Linked DNA regions of Homo sapiens. The protein of the gene in region 2 purifies or fractionates together with the protein of the main gene of each other region. This does not show direct contact. Each region holds a gene or a part of one and is shown on either strand. Other genes may lie near its edges. The genes, in order: SEPHS1 and PFAS.

Region 1 (3,911 bases), on a different chromosome or scaffold from region 2:
GGCCAACATGGTAAAACCTCGTCTCTAAATTAGCTGGGCATGATGGCACAGCCCTGTAATCCCAGCTACTCGGGCTGAGGCAAGAGAATCGCTTGAACCGGGGAGGGGGAGGTTGCAGTGAGCTGAGATCGCGCCATTGCACTCCAGCCTGGGTGACAAGAGGAAAACTCCATCATAAAATTAAAAACTTCCTATTTCTGAAGAAAGGAAACAAATTTAAATGGCTGGTAACATTCGTCAATTCATTCAATTTCCATTCAGTGCCCAATTATGTGGCAGACACTGTCCTGGCCAGAGCCTGAACCAGCAGGGGAAAAAAACCCTGCCCTGTTGGAGCTTACTTCTAGAAAATGGTTTGTTTTTTTAAACGGGAGGCTGAAGCGTCCTCTATAAAGGCGGTGAGAGGCCTGGCAGAGTCCTGAAGCCCCCTCGCCACAGCACAGGTCGACGTGACCAGGGCTTTGTGGTCCCAGCACTGTGGTCCCTTGCCCCGGCCTACTACGGAATCTCCCAGGCAGCCTTCACAGATGCTGAGGCCCAGGCCCACCCGAGATGGATCCCACCGTTTTTGGGAGGCTGGGGCTAGGCATGTGTATTTTTCTTTTTTTTTTTGAGACAGAGTCTCACTCTGTCGCCCAGGCTGTAGTGCAGTGGGGCGATCTTGGCTCACTGCAACCTGTGCCTCCTGGGTTCAAGCGATTCTCCTGCCTCAGCCTCTGGAGTAGCTGGGATTACAGGGCACACGCCACGACGCCCCGCTAATTTTTGTATTTTTAGTAGAGACAGGGTTTCACCATGTTGGTCAGGCTGGTCTCGAACTCCTGACCTCGACCTCCCAAAGTGCTGGAATTACAGGCGTGAGCCACCAGGCCTGGCCGGCATGTGTATATTTAAAATCCTAAGGTGATTCCACTCTTTTGCGGGTAGAAAACTAGAGTTCTAGAGGAAAGGAAATAGAAAAAGAGAGAAACCGAAAAAAAGGGAAAAACAGGGAGACTTAAAAGATGAAAACAGTAAAGGTAAAGGGAACAAAGGGGGCAAAAGAGAAATGGTACTTCAGGAGGACGCGCCATCTGGCTCCAGCTGGGGCTGCGGGAGTGGGAATGAGCGATGGCGAGCCTGTAGGCTGTGGGTGGCGGCCTCGGCGGCCGGCAGGCCATGCTGGAGTACCTGCCATGATGAAGAGGAGGACGTCCCACAAGTTCCGGACAGATGTGGCCACCAAATTAATCAGGAAACAAAAGGAGCTTAATCTTAGAAAAATGATAAGGGATATAAAAGCTCCCTAGGAGTCAAACTACTGGGGCGTATGGTGTCAGACCTGCACTGCTGTCTGATGGCTCTCTCTACCTACGCTTGCTCCATCTCCCGTTTATCCTCCATTTATGTTTCCTCTAATAAATTACTGCACATCTAAGAAAAAAGAAAAATGGCATTTTAAAGACATAATATCCTATTGCATTCTTTTTTATTCTGTATCATTCTCTTTTCTTTTTTTTTTTTTTTTAAGGCAGAATCTCGCTCTGTCACCCAGGCTGGAGTGCAGTGGCGCAATCTCGGCTCACTGCAACCTCTGTCTCCCAGGTTCAAGTGATTCTCCTGGCTCAGCCTCCCAAGCAGCTGGGATTAAAGGCATGGACCACCACGCCCAGCTACTTTTTTTTTGTATTTTTAGTGAAGATGGGGTTTCACCATGTTGGCCAGGCTGGTCTTCAACTCCTGATCTCACGTGATGTGCCTGCCTCAGCCTCCTGAGGTGCCAGTATTACAGGCAAGAGCCACCACACCTGGCCCCTTTTCTCTCTATCATTCTTAAAACAACGTTAGACAATTTTCAAGGAAAAAAATATCACCTGTTCAAAGTAACCTAGGGGTATTACAGTTAATTTCAAATGCGAAGCTTTCAGTAAAAACTGAATGCTACCTTATTTCCCCCATCACCATATCCTTGCATCAAAAAGAGCACAGGCCACTCAACCTCAGCAAGGCTGCTGGATCCACCCAGGATGGCGGGGACCAGACCCACCGGGAGGAGGAAAGGCACCAGCTGCTGCGGAGGCCGAGGTCAGCAGCATGGAACTCGAACAGAGTGGGGGCCCACTCGGGGTGGGGCTGCTGCTTTCTCGCTGAGCTTTCTGTTAGCCTCACTATTTAGTCCTCAGATGCGCCCAGCATCCTGTACCTGAAGTCTCCGGGCAGGTCCCGTGCATGAGGCCGAACATGTTTCCGCAGGCCTTGCTCACCGCAGCCATCTTGGCCAGCACCGGGAGGTTGTGAATTACAAACGACACCTCGTTCCTCTGCTGCTTGGCCAGGTTCTGCGCATGGCCCAAAATCCCGAAGCCCGTGATGTCAGTGGCGGCGTGGGCATTGAACGTGTGCATGAGTCCTGCAGCTGGGAGAGAGAGGGGGCGGCTCTGAGAAAAAACACCTTTCCTCAACTCAAAAATCTTACGTCCACAATTAATCTGCAACTTCCTTACTTGTCAGGGAGATGACGTATCGGAATAATGAAAACGCAATGTAAAATCAACCAAAGACATAGTGAAATTCCAAAAGTTCTTATTTCACTTTGAGCCACCTGAAAACTATCAGAAGCTTCAATTAATAGTAGTTTTCCAGTAAACTAAAAAAACTATGCAGAGGGATTATGATCTCAGTGGAAGGTAAACCGGCCAAGACCATCCTAAAACCAAAGACCGGCACTTTTTTCCTTTTTTGAGATGGAGTCTCGCTCTGTCATCCAGGCTGGGGTGCAGTCGTACGATCTCGGCTCACTGCAACCTCTGCCTCCAGGGCTCAAGTGATTCTCCTGCCTCAGCCTCCTGAATAGCTGGGACTACAGGTGCGCACCACCACGCCCAGCTAATTTCTGTATTTTTAGCAGAGACAGGGTTTCACCATATTGGCCAGGCTGATCTTGAACTCCTGACCTCATGATCCGCCCGCCCTGGCCTCCCAAAGTGCTGGGATTACAGATGTGAGCCACCACACCCGGCCAAGACCAGCACTTTTTAAGAAGGCCTTGCTCAGTATCAAGGTACTCCCGCGAAAGGTGAATTGCGTGCAAGTTTATTTTTAAATTTCTTTCTTTTTTTTTTTTTTAAGAGACAGAGTCTTGCTCTATTGACCAGGCTGGAGTGCAGTGGCATGATCATAACTCACTGCACTTGGGCTCAGGCAATCGTCCTGCCTCAGCCTCCCAAAGCGCTGGGATCACAAGTGTGAGCCACTGCTCAATAATATTCCATACTACAGATACACTACATTTTGTTTATCCATTCATCCACTCACCTACTATTATTTAATTATCCATTCACCCGACCTATTATTTAATTTTAAAAAAATTTACAGACTTTATTTTTTGGAGCAGTTTTGCGTTTAGAAAGAAATTAAGTGGGAAGTAACAAATCCTCAGTGCTCTGCTCTACCTGATCCCCTTCCTCTCCGATAACCTCTGGCCACCACTGATCCTTTCTGCATCTCTACAGTTTTGCAGAATGTCATGCAGTTGGAATCCTTCTGTATGGAGCTTTTTCAGACTGGCTTCTTTCACTTAGTAATATGCACTTAAGATTCCTCCACATCTTTTCATGGCTTGATAGCTCATTTCTTTTTACTGCTCAATTATATTCCATCATACAGATACACTACATTTTGTTTATCCATTCATCCACTCACCTACTGAAGAAATGAATGGCTGCTTCCAAGTTCTGGCAATTATGAATAATGCTGCTATGAACATTTGTCTGCAGGCTTTTGTGTGAATGTAAGTTTTCAACTTTTTTGAGTGAATATCAAGGAGCACAATCGCTGCATCATATAATAACATATTTAGTTTCATAAGAAACTGCCAAACTGACTTTTAAAGTGGCTGTGCCAGTTTTCAGTCCTACCAGTAATAAATGAGA
Region 2 (3,911 bases):
ACGCACTTCGGGTCTCAGACGCTTTTACTTATTATGGTTGCCCTTTTCCCCTACAGCTCCGTCAAGGGTCTTCTCCAGGAACCCACAGCCCCATAGTTCCCCCATTAACCTGCTCCTGGTTTCCCACCAGGATTAAACCCTAGAGAGTGAACGGAGACCAGTTTAAGGCTCACAGCGGGCGCCGCGTGAATGAGGGAATAAACATTCGCAGAACCAGTAAGAGGTAGGAGCGGACCGACTCACAACCCCCTCACCCATGGGCCGGACGCGGCCAGCGAGCCCAGAGAGACAAGGCAGAGGAAATAGGAAGAGAAAGAGTATCTGTGACAAACAAGAAAAAAGGAACAAGAGACGTAATAGCAGCACTCACGGAGGAAGGGACCTGGGCCCGGCCAGCCGCCATGATGCGCCGGAGCTCCGCCCCCGGGAGGGGCAGGTGCTCGCTTGGGGGTGGGGATGGGGGTGGGGGGGCGCTCGGTGACGTCACCGGTGAGCGGGTTTCCTCGCCACCTCCAGCTCCTTCTCGCTGCTCACCCCCTCGCTTCCTAGAGACTCCGCGAGGCGCCTCGGTGCACCATCCCAACTCCCGACACCCCTGTCTCTTTTCTCTGATTTTTTTTTTTTTAAGACGAAGCCTGGTTCTGTCGCCCAGGCTGGAGTGCAGTGGCGCGATCTCGGCTCACTGCAACCCCCGCCTCCCAGGTTCAAGGGATTTTCCGGCCTCAGCCTCCTGAGTAGCTAGGATTACAGGCACCTGCCACCACCACGCCCGGCTAATTTTTTTTTTTTTTTTTTTTTTTGTATTTTTAGTAGAGACGGGGTTTCACCATGTGGCCAGGCTGGTCTCAAACTCCTGACCTCAGGTGATCCACCCGCCTCAGCCTCCCAAAGTGCTGGGATTACAGGCGTGAAACACAGCCCCTGGCCCTCTCTGATTTTTTTGAGACGAGGTCTCGCTCTATCGCCCAGGCTGGAGTGCAGCGGCGCCATCTCGGTTCACTGCAGCCTCGACCTCCCGGGCTCAAGCGATCCTCCCACCTCAGCCCACCAAGTAGCTGGGATCGCAGGCTTGCACCGCCACACCCGGCTAATTTTTGTATTTTTCTGTAGCGACATGGTTTCGCCATGTTGCCCAGACTGGTCTCGAACTCCTGGGCTCAAGCGATCTGCCCGCCTCGGGCTCCCAAAGTGCTCGGATTACAGGCGGGAGCCACCGCGCCCAGCCTCCGTCTCCCTCCTAAGTGACATCCTGTCCGGCATCCCGCAGGCCTTCAGATGGATGGGGTAGCAGAGCTCAGGAACTCAAACACAGCCCGCCTGGTGGATGACTTCTAAGCATCTTTCAGTCTCCCTGATCTTGCCAAGCAGAGAAGGGCTTCCTCGTAATGCCACCAAAGCACAACTTTCACATGCTTGCTTTATGGCCTTAACTAACTGATGTCATTACTTAACTGTCCCCGCGGGGACGGGGAACTGAATGTATTTTCACAAACGTCAGTTCAAGACAGATTTGTGGGAGAAACCACCTGGGGATAAACCTCTCCCCACCAAGAACCTAGAATTCGGCCGGGTGGCTGGGGAAAAGTGGGCGGGGCGTAGTCGCCCCGGCGCTGGCAGGTCCAGTCTCTGCCCGCGGCGCACGCGGATGACGTAACAAACGCGCGCGACGATTCGAGGTGCTCTGTGGCCGCGAGTGCATCTTCCACGTGAGTATAGTTACCGCGTGCGGACCTGGATCCTCCTCCAGGTGCAGCGTTTCGTCATCTAGCCCAAGCTTGGTCTGGCGGCTTCAGTATCCCCACCGGGCCGAGCTGTGTCTACTTGGTGCCCGCGTATTTGCTTTAGTGGAGGCGTCCATTCGTCCTATCTTGCGTGCGTTCCGCAGACCCCAGGCATGGCCGACCCCCATGTAAATTTAGCCCCATTGTCCCATTCATGGATTCAGCTAACAGAAAGACTGCCGGCCGCCTACTTTATATCAGGCACCATGCTGGTCATGGAATACAGCCCTCATGCACGCAAACCCTGTCTCTGAGCTCTTGAAGCTTATATTTTACTGGGAATGATAGACGGAAATCAAGTGGCTTAATAAACAAAATGCCTTCAGGAAGACTGTCCTGAAAGTTGGGGAGGGGCTGAAGAGTGGTGAGAATCAAGAGTTCATTAAGTCATTCCACAAGTTTTAGAATTTTTTTGCGTTTCAAGCCCTGGTATTGTTCTAAGCCTTGGTAATTCAATGGAAACGAAGCAGCAACATCCCATGCCCACGTAGAGATTTTTTTTCTAGTGGGGAATATAGAGCGAAAAATAAAAACATCCAATAGTGATAAGCGCTTTACAGGAAATTAAAATAGGGCCGGCCATCTGATAGTAACTACTTGAGTGGCTAGTGAAGCCTTTTCCACGAAGGCGAATCACCAGAAATCTAAATAACAAGAGCTAGCCATGCATATGTCAGGGTGAAAAAAATGCCTTCCAGGACTGAGCTTGGCAAGTTAGAGAAATAAAAAAGAAGCTAATGTGTGGTTGGTGCATTGTGGGTGAAAAAGAGAATGGTGTGAGATAGGGTTGGAAAGGTAGGCCAGAGAGTGGCCAGACTTGGTAAACCAGGATGCTGAGTTGGAATTTATACCATGTGTAATGGGAAGCCATAATCCACTTTATGCTGATGTGTGACAAATGAATTGTGGTTATGCAGTGGTCAGGAGGTTAATGCATTGGTCCAGGTGAGTGATGGTGGTGGCTTACTTGAACTAGAGTGAGGTAGTAGAGATGAAGAGATGAGAGATTTGAGACATGATTGGAAATAGATTTCCTGGTGGATTGGATTTAGAGAGTCTGAGGGAAAGAGAATTAAGGATGACTTCTGTGTTTTTGTCTTGAGCAACAAATTGGATGATGGTAGTGTTTACTGAGTGGCAAGACTAGGGGAACAGCAGAGTTTGGTGAGTAAAGCCAGGGTCCCGCTGAGAGGCAGTGGGACCAGAAATTGGATAGGTAGTTTGGGATAGATGGGGAGGGCCTTTGAATGTTAGGCTAAAAGTATTAACTGTAATAGTTCTGTTGCCTGATGCACACTGGAGGTCAATACACCAAGACACCAGGTTGCAGCAGAGAAAGAGGTTTAATCATAGGGCTGCTGAACAAGGAGACAGGAGGAAACCTCAAATCCATCTCCCAGAGTACTTTGGGGCTAGGGTTTTTAAAAAAGAGTTTGGAATAGGATTAGGATGAAGTGTGAAAATCATTGATTGAAGAGTGCAGGGTGAGGTCATGAAACAGGGAGATGAAGAAACTGATTCTCATGCTCACTTGGTTCCACTGTGGGAGTCTTTTTTTTTTTTTATTTTTTTTAATTTGAAAGATGAGGTCTGCCTGGCGCAGTCGCTCACGCCTATAATCCCAGCACTTTGGGAGGCTGAGGTGGGTGGATCACGAGTTCAAGAGATTGAGACCATCCTGGCGAACATGGTGAAACCCCATCTCTACTAAAAATACAAAAATTAGCTGGTCATGGTGGTGTGCACCTGTAGTCTCAGCTACTCGGGAGACCGAGGCAGGAGAATCGCGTGAACCCGCAAGGCAGAGGTTGCAGTGAGCCGAGATCGTGCCACTGTACTCCAGCCTGGCAACAGAGTGAGACCCCATCTCAAAAAAAGAAAAAGAAAGACGGGGTCTTGCTCTGTCACCCAGGCTGGAGTGCAGTGGCACAATCGTAGCTCACTGCAGCCTCAAACTCATGGGCTCAAGCGATCCTCTTACCTCAGCCTCTTGAGTAGCTGGGACCACAGGTACATGCCACCATGCCCCACTAATTTTTAATTTTTTTTTTTATAAAGACAGGGTCTTACCATGTTGCCCAGGGCTGGTCTCAAACTCCTGGGCTCAAGCAGTCCACTGCTTTGGCCTCC

The links.
Region 1: the proteins of PFAS (region 2) and SEPHS1 fractionate together in Homo sapiens (co-fractionation; 2 studies listed by BioGRID). This does not show direct contact.

Annotation. Positions count from the first base shown.
Region 1 is NC_000010.11:13,320,653-13,324,563, forward strand, and holds part of SEPHS1 (selenide, water dikinase 1), read right to left. Parts: intron 2,396-3,911; coding exon 2,183-2,395; intron 1-2,182. UniProt on the Homo sapiens protein: Synthesizes selenophosphate from selenide and ATP.
Region 2 is NC_000017.11:8,247,634-8,251,544, forward strand, and holds the start of PFAS (phosphoribosylformylglycinamidine synthase), read left to right. Parts: upstream 1-1,655; 5' UTR 1,656-1,706; intron 1,707-3,911. Other genes in the region: CST complex subunit CTC1, read right to left, coding at 371-403. UniProt on the Homo sapiens protein: Phosphoribosylformylglycinamidine synthase involved in the purines biosynthetic pathway. Catalyzes the ATP-dependent conversion of formylglycinamide ribonucleotide (FGAR) and glutamine to yield formylglycinamidine ribonucleotide (FGAM) and glutamate.